Regions from separate parts of the Homo sapiens genome. Here region 2 is linked to region 1. The links come from fine-mapping of genetic effects on plasma protein levels. A gene starts in region 1. The other region holds a variant in brackets. All regions are shown on one strand. Distances are from middle to middle.

Evidence for each region. PIP is the chance, under the fine-mapping model, that this variant and not a neighbour inherited with it causes the effect. The UK Biobank Pharma Proteomics Project read protein levels with antibody pairs (Olink). The fine-mapping took linkage between variants from a reference panel, not from the people measured, so its PIPs are less certain.
Region 2: its variant is fine-mapped to the plasma level of the NPY protein (UK Biobank, PIP above 0.99).

What each region holds. Positions count from the first base shown.
Region 1 is chr7:24,281,177-24,286,499 of GRCh38, reverse strand. NPY (neuropeptide Y) reads right to left here and starts at 2,310. Exons shown (of 4, transcript NM_000905.4): 1 at 2,225-2,310; 2 at 1,072-1,259. The coding sequence starts at 1,259. All of the region lies in intron 2 of LOC107986777 (a long non-coding RNA gene), which reads left to right.
Region 2 is chr7:24,267,415-24,272,794 of GRCh38, reverse strand. All of the region lies in intron 2 of LOC107986777 (a long non-coding RNA gene), which reads left to right. Among named protein-coding and RNA genes, the nearest start is that of NPY, 14 kb to the left of the region's middle. The variant T/A (reference allele first, on the strand shown) is at 3,316.

The DNA.
Region 1 (5,323 bases):
AAATAAATAAATATATAAACCCCACAATACTTTAAACATATAATTTAAACATGTTAACTAACATTAATGCTTCTAAAGGGCTTATCCTTTAGATACGGTCAAATGACTAAAATCATTTAATCTCAGTAATTAAAATAAGATATTAAATGATTTAGAACTAAGATCAACCAATTTTGAAAACAAAATTTAAATCCTATGTAATTTGTAAAATAGTTTGGATTTGATTTTTCCCTTAATTGTCAATGTTGAGAGTGAAAATATGGCATTTCATTTTGACTTTCGGAATGTTCAGAATAAAGTTTACAATTTCTCAGATTCCATGTAATCCCTGAATTCATCCTAAAGTTACTGGACCAACGTAAGTTTCTTCTTAATGAAATACCAAGTGGGCACTTTCTTTTCAGAATTCACCAGCTATAAAATAGGGAGACCTCTGCATTTTAGATAAACTGTTTTCAGGCTAAATCTCTAATTATTGGGACTAGAATTTTCAAATATGGGAGTGAGACTGCAAAAAAAACACAGTGAAGAAGAAAAGAAAATAGCTCTATTTGTCTTTTTCTAAATACTGTCATTCAATTAGCCCTGGGCAGGCCGGAAAGTCTGACAATGTCTGTGGCAACCCTGCAGTTTACTCCTTGGTTTGGTTTTCTTTGGTGGTCGTTCTGTTTCTCCTAGACACCTTGCTAGCGTTTCCCCCTACAGCATTTCTCTGGCGCATTCTTGCCCCTTTCACTGGGTACTTTCGAGATTTCTGGACCGGGCCCCACTGCCGTAAGAACCACAACAAACCATAAGAGGTGAGTGAGAGGAGATTGCCAGCCTACCAGCCTGGGGAACCTGAATCTGGGGATCACGACTCTGTGACTGTAGTTGCACAAAATGGAAGGTACCCATTTTGTGTAGAGTGTGCCCTGTACAAACATTTACCTAGAGCTGACTAAGTGCCTGATACTGTCCTGCCCTGGGATAGAGCGAAGGAAAAGAAACAATCCCTTTCCCTAACATCCCCAGGATCTCCTGGTGTGCAGGCACTGGCGCTCCCGGAATCGGTCCCGCGGTCCCACCCACCTCTGCCTGGTGATGAGGTTGATGTAGTGTCGCAGCGCCGAGTAGTATCTGGCCATGTCCTCCGCTGGTGCGTCCTCGCCCGGGTTGTCCGGCTTGGAGGGGTACGCCTCGGCCAGCGCACCCAGGCACACGAGCAGGGACAGGGCGAGGGTCAGTCCGGACAGCCCCAGTCGCTTGTTACCTAGCATCTGCAGGCACAGAAGGCTCAACGGACGGGCTTGGGGATTCAGAGCACCCACGCGCAGCACCTCCCTCCTCTGCCCCCCGCGCTCCTCCTCCTGCTACCACACGCGACCCCCAATCCGCTCTCGTCCCAGTCCCGCAGAGAGAACCCAGGAGTGGCTAGCACCACCTTGCGGGCTCCGGGCGCCGTCCGGTCGGGACCTGCCCCTCTGCTCCACCTGAAAACTTCGCGCAACTTCGTTCGAAGTCTCAGGGACCAAGAAGCGCGCGGCGAGAGTGCAAGGTGGGGGCCCCGCCAGTTTAGCATTCAAAACCGAATTGGAAGTTCTTCCTGCTGGGTCACTTTTCTCCCTTCTTGCCCAAACTCTTGTCTGGGAAGAAAAGTTTCTTCTCTGTTACTTCTGGTCTGCCTAGCTTCAGGGGATCAACGCTGACAGCAGAGATCACCTCGGGGTGACGACTGCGGTGGGGAAGGGGAAAGAGAATTGCTCCCTGGGCCAGAATTGCTCCAAAGAGATTTGGAGCCCAAGAATCCAGGGAGGTGGCAGGGCGCGGGGCTCTAGAGCTCCAGGGATTCCTCACTCGATGGCGCTGCCGGGGAAACCTTCCTACCGCGCACCGCTTCCTGGGCCTCAAGGCGGCGACCCGCAGGGAGACCGCCAGCTGCCTTGGGATAGCGGTCCCGGGTTCTCCCTCCATATCTGCTAAAAGGTAACTCAGAAGAACCGCCCAGCGGGAAGGGCCCGGGAGAAGGGCCGTGGACAATCAGAGGGGAGCAGAGGAACAAGTGGAATTTAGCCGCCAAGAGGGCTGGTCCGCGTCGGGGCGCGGAGCCGGCATAGTCCGCTGGGGAGTGGAGCGCGATCATCCCAGGGCCCCAGGGCTCCACAGAGCGGGAGGCTGCGTCTCTAGCAAGTTCGCGGGCGCCCCGTTCGCTCCCACCCCTAGACAGACGGGTCGTAGCACTCACGGTGGCTGGCGCGCGGGCGTGGCTGGGCGGCAAGTACTATGCTGTCGGGCGAGCGTCTCCGAGGGGTGAGAGCCAGCGGATGGGGTGCAGAGAGCGGGTCGCGACAGGGCTTTTATGGAGCTTCCTCGCCGCGGCAGGAGGGGCCTCGGGCAGTCACGCTTGGGTGACTCCCACCCGCCACTTCCCGCCCCTGAGTGGCGGGGGGAGGGGGCTGGAACCGCAGCCGCACGAGTGTCGACTTAGGGAGCCACCCACACCCCAACCCTCCCGCCCCAGGCACTGCCTGAAGAAGCGGGGCCTGGGACCGCGTGAGCGAGGCAGCGCACTCCGAGCGCGCTGGACAACACCAAAGCCCAAGTATCTGCCCTCGGGCAGTGCCCGATCCCTGCTTTCCTTCTTTCCTTCTTTCCTTCACGCCCCGTCTAGTCCTGCCAGAGATAGGAGCAGCCCAGACGATTCTTGTCTCCTGCCAACAGGACTACCAACCCACTGGGTGCCGGAGTAGGAAGCACCTGAATCCTCTTTGTGGTGGGGCATCTCCACGACTAGCGCGGCATCCTCGCCGGGCACAACTGCGCGCTGTTGGAGTGAGGCAACTGGGCGCACAGATTTTTCCTGTACTTAGAACAAGTCGGAGGCAGCTGCCGGAAGTCTCCGGCTAGAGGGTCCCAAAGCTGCGCTCCCCACCCCACCCCCGCCCGTGGTTTCAGGGGCTTCTGCCCCTTCTCTCAGCTGGTTTTTCTAGATCAGCCTTCCTCAAGTACTCGCTCAGACGCAGCGAGCCAGGCTCGGTCGAGACATGAGTGTGGCGACTCAAAATTCCCCAGAGGGGGAACACGGTAAACCTATTCCCCCAGTTTGCTGAAAAAGAGCCACGCTTCCAGCTTCTAGAGACTCTTTTAAGCTCAATTTTAAAAATATATATTTTTTCTTTTTTGGTCCAAAGTGACGGTGGTTAAATGAACAACAGTTTCTGTCTTATTTACTAACCCTTGTATAGTCCTATGTACGTTCAATTAACGTTGAGAATGTGGGTTCTGATTAAGATGAAACATGTTAAAAACGATGAACATTAATTTGCTCATCGCGTTAAACCTGTTGAATGAATATGCAAGATACAGAAACTATTATTACAGGATCAAGATTTTATGCAGTGGACTGAGATCTGAAAGTTCCGTGAATGAATGCTCCTGTATCTTTCTAAATAAAATGGCATTTTATTTCTAAATGAAATATAAGTCTGAATCTTTCTAAATAAAAAGGCATGTTGGGAAATTAAAGCATTAAGTTCCATGTTATTTTAATGCTAAAAGGACAAGTGATTCTGTTAAACTGACACTTAGTTTTTGTGCTGTTCCAACAGCATTGAATTAAATATCAAAAACCGTGAAGCAAACAATCCTTTGCATGTATGTGTTTGTGTGTTTGTGGGATCAAACTATAATTTTGGAGACCAACATCCCTTTCACTTGGCAACTGCTTCTCTTTCTGTATTACACAAACATATGCTGAGGACACAAAAATCAAGGCTCTCAGAGTTGCTCGGGGGTGCTTACAAGACACAGCCTTCGGTAAAAGTGCAAAACATCTTCTAACTTAGAGCTCTTCCTAGATAAAGGGAAAGTTACAGTCCACTTTTCAATAAAATAATCTTATTTTAGAGTGTATCACAGATTCATATCAATTAAAATCTGAACTTAAAATGTATCACTGAATTTGGGAAAAATTACTTCTAGGAAGGCCCACACCACTATTGAGAGAAGAACACTGTGGAGGCTTGATTAATTTAGCTTAAGATAATGTCATTGATTCTCAAGAATAAGAACTTATTCTGAGGGTTAAGGATTCAGAGAATAAAAAATAGGGGGTGATATGCCCTACATGTGCTTACATCCTTATCTCCTTTCTCTCCAGTCCAAGCCACATCCCCTGGCCAAAATACAAACAAAACCAACTGTTGGCAACTCAACCCTGCATCTTCTCCTAGCTGCTGAGCCATTTCTCTCCTTTGTTTCAAAGTCAAGTTGTTTATTTCTAACAGCTTTGTTAAGATAACATTGAGATACTGTTGAGCTTGTTGAGATTCAAAAGGAGGTGAATCAGTGGAGACTAGAGAAGGTAATGACCGAGAGAAGTCAAATAACCGGTAAAGGTCCATGTGGTTTGCAATTAGGAGGTCTTACTGATAGCAGGTTCATAGCTTGATTCAGATAGAACCTGGACCACATGAAACCCAGTGGTTTCATGACTAAACCTAAGGTAAAGAAGCAGAAGGAATGAATAGATACTGCTGAATATATACAAAGCTACAAATGTGTAAAATATTCAATTGGATATATTCTTACACATATGCATGTGTGTTATATGCTCAGGAAGCCATCACTGAAACCAAGAAAATGAAGATTATACATCACTTCCCCAAATTTCCACATGTACCTTTGTAATTCCTTCCTTTTGCCTCTTCCTCACCCCCTCCTCCATTGATCTGCTATCACTAGAGATTTGTTTGCGTTTTCTAGAATTGCACATAAATATAGTTCCACGGTAGGTACTCTTTGTCTGACTTCTTTCACTTAGCATCATTATTTTTGAATCCACTCACATTGTTAAATGTAGCAATAGTTTATTCTTTTTTATTGCTGGGCAGTATTTCATTATATGATATACTTCAAAATTTTTAATCAATTCTACTGCTCATGAATTTTTGGTTATTTTCACTTGAAACTTTTACGAATAAAGCTGCCTTGACATTCATATGCAAGTCTTTGTATGGACATAAAGCCTTTAATTCTCTTGGAAAATACTTAAAACCAGAATGGCTGAGTCAGACGGTGAGTGTATATTGGCCCACAGTTTGTTGGTGATCTGTTTTTGCTTCTGTTTTGCTCATTTTTTCCTTCATATTTTATTTTGGATAGTCTCTATTGCTATGTCTGTGAGTTCACTAATGTTTTCTTCTGTAATATCTGATTACTGCCAATCCTATCCAGTGTATTTTGCACCTTATACCTGGTAGCTTTCATCTCTAGAGTTTCAACTTGAATCTTTTTTTTAAGTTACAGGACAATATAAAGCAATGAATCTTTTTTATATCTTCCG
Region 2 (5,380 bases), 14 kb after region 1:
AACTTAATAGAAGGGACGATGCATCTCTATTATGATTCCCAGCACTCAATAGATACTATAGTTTGGTTTCTTTGACCCCTCCAATGTTATGTTGAAATTTGATCCCCAATGTTGGAGGTGAGTCCTAATGGGAAGTGTTTGGGTCATAGGGGTAGCACCCTTATGAATGGCTTTATGTTGTCCTTGTAGTAATGGATGAGTTCTTGCTTTATTAGTTCCTGTGAGAGCTGGTTGTTTAAAAGAGCCTACTACCTCCCTCCTCTCTCTCTTGCTTGCTCTCTCGGCACACGATTTCTGCACACACCAGCTCCCCTTCACCTTCTGCCATGAGTAGAAGCAGCCTGAGGCTCTCATCAGAAGCAGGTGCTAGTGCCATGCTTCTTGCACAGCCTGCAGAACCATAAGCCAAATAAACCTCTTTTCTTTATAAATTACCCTGTATTCTTTTATAGCAACACAAATGAATTAAGACAATAGATTTCCAATAAATATGTATTGATCAAAATAAATATCTTTATGCAACTGAAGTTTATAACTGAGTTTTAGAAGGGCCTGATAGAACAGGGATTGGCAAACTGTAACCTATGGGCCACCTCCCTACCACCTGTTTTTGTAAATAACGTTTTGTGAGAATGCAGCCACACCTATTCATTTACATATTGCTTATGGCTGCTTTCTTGCTGCAATGACAAAGTTGAGAAGTTACAACAGACACTGTATGGCTCACAACGTCTAAAGTATTTACTTTCTGGCTCTTTATAGAAAGTATGCAGAACGTTGATTTAGAATTTAAATATTTTACATAAACTATAGGTAAGTAAACATGATAGACAATTTGAGGGTCCTGAGCGTGCCAAACTACTTCCTGCCCGGGGCTCTTCCTCATTCTATTTTCTCCTGAGCATGCCAAACTACTTCCTGCCCGGGGCTCTTCATCATTCTATTTTCTCTTTCAGCGAACTCCCACTTATCCTTCACATTTACTCTATATGTCATTTCTCCATGATCCCTCAATCTAGATTAGGTTCCTCTCCAACTCACCTCATTGTATGATCCCACGATATCTTATAATTTACCTTTAAAGATCCTTTAAAGAACTTTATCTTTAAAGATAGCTCTAACTGTCTATTTAGGTATATAGTCAAAGTGTTATTTTTAGTTTGATGTGTCTAACATTTCATAATTGTAAGCTCCCTGAGAGCAGGGATACGTGTTTCGTTTTGCTCACCATTAAAATCCCCATACTTAGAATAACATACTTGTATACTTGGAAGATACTTGGCTCTTAGTAGGTGCTCAATAAAAATGAGTTAAATGATCATGAGACTTGGCGTGTGATTATATATATAACTTGTAGCTGAAGTTTGTTAGGGTTTTAGGGGTCCAACAAATAACAACTACCCACCACTCCTGCCGCCACCATGGCACCATGGAAACTGATCAATAGTCAGAAGTCAGACATAGAGATCAATATACGAGGTTTGTCACTAGTAAACTATAGATTGCAAGACGTACCTTTAGCTCTGCTTGCTTTTTAAGAAACAAACTCTAGTTTTTCAACATTTATTTTACTTCTAGCAAGCCACATAAGGCAATTTTGCATGCTTTGTTTCCTTTCTAGAGTTATTTTTAATTTTAATGGTGTCCTTTAACATATGCATGTATTCAAACACTGCTTATTGCTTATCTCACATATCAACATTTTCTTTCAGGTGTTTGTCTCAAAAGAATTTAAAAGAGTAGCCACTCTGTAAAGTTAGAAAGGAGTAATAACATTAATATGCTTCTCTTCTTTAATACCTTTTCTTCCCCCCATGGATCACACGGATGGTGAATAACAAGAAATCAAACAGCATCCTCTTGAGATGGGAACTTTCTTAGTGGAACTGAAATTATGAAAATAGGACAGAGAAATGGCACAATTAGTTTAGATGTTAGAGAAGCAAGGGATGATAAGGACACAACATTTATATTTTCTAGTAACCTAGAAGACCACGTTATCCATTATATAAAAATTAAACTAAATTTAAGAATGATAAAGGATGATAATCTAATAGTTTAATTTTAAGAAATAATCTGAGGATTATTTTCTCTTAGAGAATTTATGCTATGTACATTTATATTATGTAGTTTAAAAAATTATTTTAAAATTTGTTAATGCATACACATAATTTCTTTTGATTAATTTTTTGAATTATCATTTGAATTTTTTTTTTTTTTTTTGAGACAGAGTCTAGCTCTTTCGCCCAGGCTGGAGTGCAGTGGCACCGTGGCGCCATCTCGGTTCACTGCAAGCTCCGCCTCCTGGGTTCACACCATTCTCCTGCCTCAGTTTCCCGAGTAGCTGGGACTACAGGCGCCTGCCACCATGCCCGGCTAATTTTTTGTATTTTTAGTAGAGATGGGGTTTCACCATGTTAGCCAGGATGGTCTCGATCTACTGACCTCGTGATCCGCCCGCCTCAGCCTCCCAAAGTGCTGGGATTACAGGCGTGAGCCACCGCACCCGGCCGTAATTTTTTTTTAAAGATGCAACTTGAAAGTCTTGCTCCTATCCCTGTCAACATTTATCTCATTTTCCTACCTCCCACTGGGGTAATCATTTTTATTAACTTTTTGCATATGTTTCCCAACTTTCTTTATGCAAATAAAAGCAAAAATTAATATATGTTCTTATATTTCTCCTTTTCTTATAAACAAATGCAACATGCTATACACACTGCTTGGCATCTTGATTTTATTATTTAATATTCTCTCTTGGACATCTTTCCATTTTAGAACTAAAAGCCATCTTCAATCTTTGTTAAAAACAATTTTCGACAGAAAAAATTTCATTGTATAGATGTATTGTAATTTTTTTACCAGTCCTCTATAATGTGCACTTTGTTTCCAGTCTTTTGTTATTAAAACGTAACGAAACTAATAACTTTATAAATTTGTCATTTTTTATATGTATATTTGTAGGAAAGTTTCTCAAACGTGGGATTGTGAGGCTGGACACCATGGCTCACACCTGTAATCCCAGGCACTTTGAGAGGCTGAGGCAGGCAGATCACTTGAGCTCAGGAGTTCAAGACCAATCTGAGCTAGCGAACATGGCAAAACCCTGCCTCTACTAAAAATACAAAAAAGCTAGCTGGGTGTGGTGGCACGAGCCTGTAGGCTTAGCTAGTTGGGGGGCTGAAGTGGGAGGATCGCTTCAGTCTGAGAGGTTGAGCTTGCAGTGAGCCGTCTTCACTCCTTTTCACTCCAGCCCAGGTGAGTGGGAAAGAAAAAAAACAAAGTGGGATTGTGGGTTCAACAGACATTTGTAAA[T/A]CTTATACATAGTTGCCAAATTGCTGTACATAGGGGATTTAAAAAGTCCCACTCTCACTAACAATCTAAAAGATGTCATTTTCCCACAGCCTGAACCACATATAGTCACATTTTGGATTCTTATAATGTGACAATTAAAAAAGGGGGAAGGGGAAGAGGTATTTTGAATTATCTTAAATTACATTTCTTTTATTATAAATGAGATTAAGCATCTTTTCATGTATTTACAAGCCATTTTTTACCTTTCCTTAAAAATTTTCTATTATATATAATATTAGATATTATATAAGAATATCTAAAATATTCTTTGACCTTTTTTCTGGGTTGTTGATCTTTTTAAAATCAATTTTATTCATTCTTTTAATAAATATTTTGAGAGCTTACTGTGGCCAGGAACTGTTCCAAGCATTTGGGATATATTTAAAAACAAAATACATACAAGGCTTACAGTTTAAACAGAAAATGAATAAGAGACACAATTTTACAAGTAAATGACTTGGTTTGTGAGACAGTGATGAGTGCTATGCAGAAAGTCACAAAGACTTGAAGAAGGTGAAGGAGTGAGCCACGCAAATCACGGGGGCAGAGCATCCGAGACCACAGAAAACCTGACATGATGACTCTAAGGAGGGCATGAGCAGAGTGGTAGCAGGGAAGGGGTGAAAAATGGTTGGATTCCAGATATATGTTAAAAATAGAGCAAATAATCTGTGAGAAAGAAGGAAGACAGCCAAGGATGACTGCAGATTTTTTGGCCAGAGTAACTGAAAGTATGGGGTTGCCCCCAACAGTAACAGGGAGTAGGTTTGGGGTTGGCATTGGGAGCTCAGTTGAAGATATGTCAAGATTTGGATGTCTATTAGACCCTGAGATGTCAGTTGTATCTCCAAATCTGGAGTTAAGGAGTGAGATCAGGCCTTGATAAATAAATTCAGGAGTTGTTTGCCTTTTGATGACATTTAAAGATATGACAATAGATAAGATGACCAAGGAATTGAGTGGAGAAAGAGGCAAGAAGGTGTCCACATCAAGTCTTGCAGTGAGCTGACATTGAGAGGCCAGAAGGTGAGAAAGGAAGAGCAAAGTAGCCTGAGAATGAGGGACCAGAGAGGTAGAGGAAAACCAAAAGAGTTTGAGATTTGGTATTCTAGATGTCATGTGCAAATGTTTTTTCAAGAAAGAGGAAATGGACTTCTGCATCAACTGCTGAAAAGTAAAGTCAAATTGACCACTGGCTAAAATTGACCACCGGCTTGAGCAATGTGGGAGTCTTGACAAAAAGCAGTTTCAGTAGAAGTGGCAGAAGGAAAGACACTAGATAGGATTTAAGAGAGAAAAAGAAGATATTGGAGACAATTCAGGGAGTTTCACTGCAAAGGAAAGTAGTAAAAGGGGCAGTAACTGGTGAGGGAAATGACATCAAGAGAAATGTCTTTTAAGATGGGGAAAAAGGGAGCATATTGGTCTGCTGGATGGAATGATCAGGAAGAAAGAAAAAGTGGCACTGAAGGTGAGAGCTTCTAGAAGATTTTATATATTTGAGAGTTTCTTCTTTTGTGAAATGAGTTGCAAAAACTAATTTGTGGTTTGTCACTCATCTTTTGACTTTAATGTGTTGTTTTTGCCTTACAGAAGTTTTAAATTTAAAGTTGAATGTATCAATCTTTTCTTGTGTGCTTCTGAATTTTAGCTCTTAGTTTATTTAAAAGGCCTTCCACACTCTACAGCAGAGGTCTGTGAAATAGGGCTAAGGACCAAATCTAGTCTCTCACCTGTTTTTGCAAATAAAGTTTTATTGGAACACAGCCACACTCATTTGTTATGGTTGCTTTTGCACCACAACGGCATAACTGAGTAGTTGTGACTTTAAAATGGTGGTAAATACACACTACATAAAGTTTTCAGTATAACAGTGAATGATGAGAAAATACTATATTTTGGGTGGAACTATGTATAACCACTAAATAGAATAGTAGACAACATTTCTTATTTAATACTATATATTCTAGAGCAGTTTATGTTGTGGGGAAAGATGTTTGGAGAGGGTGGTAGCTTACAAATCTAA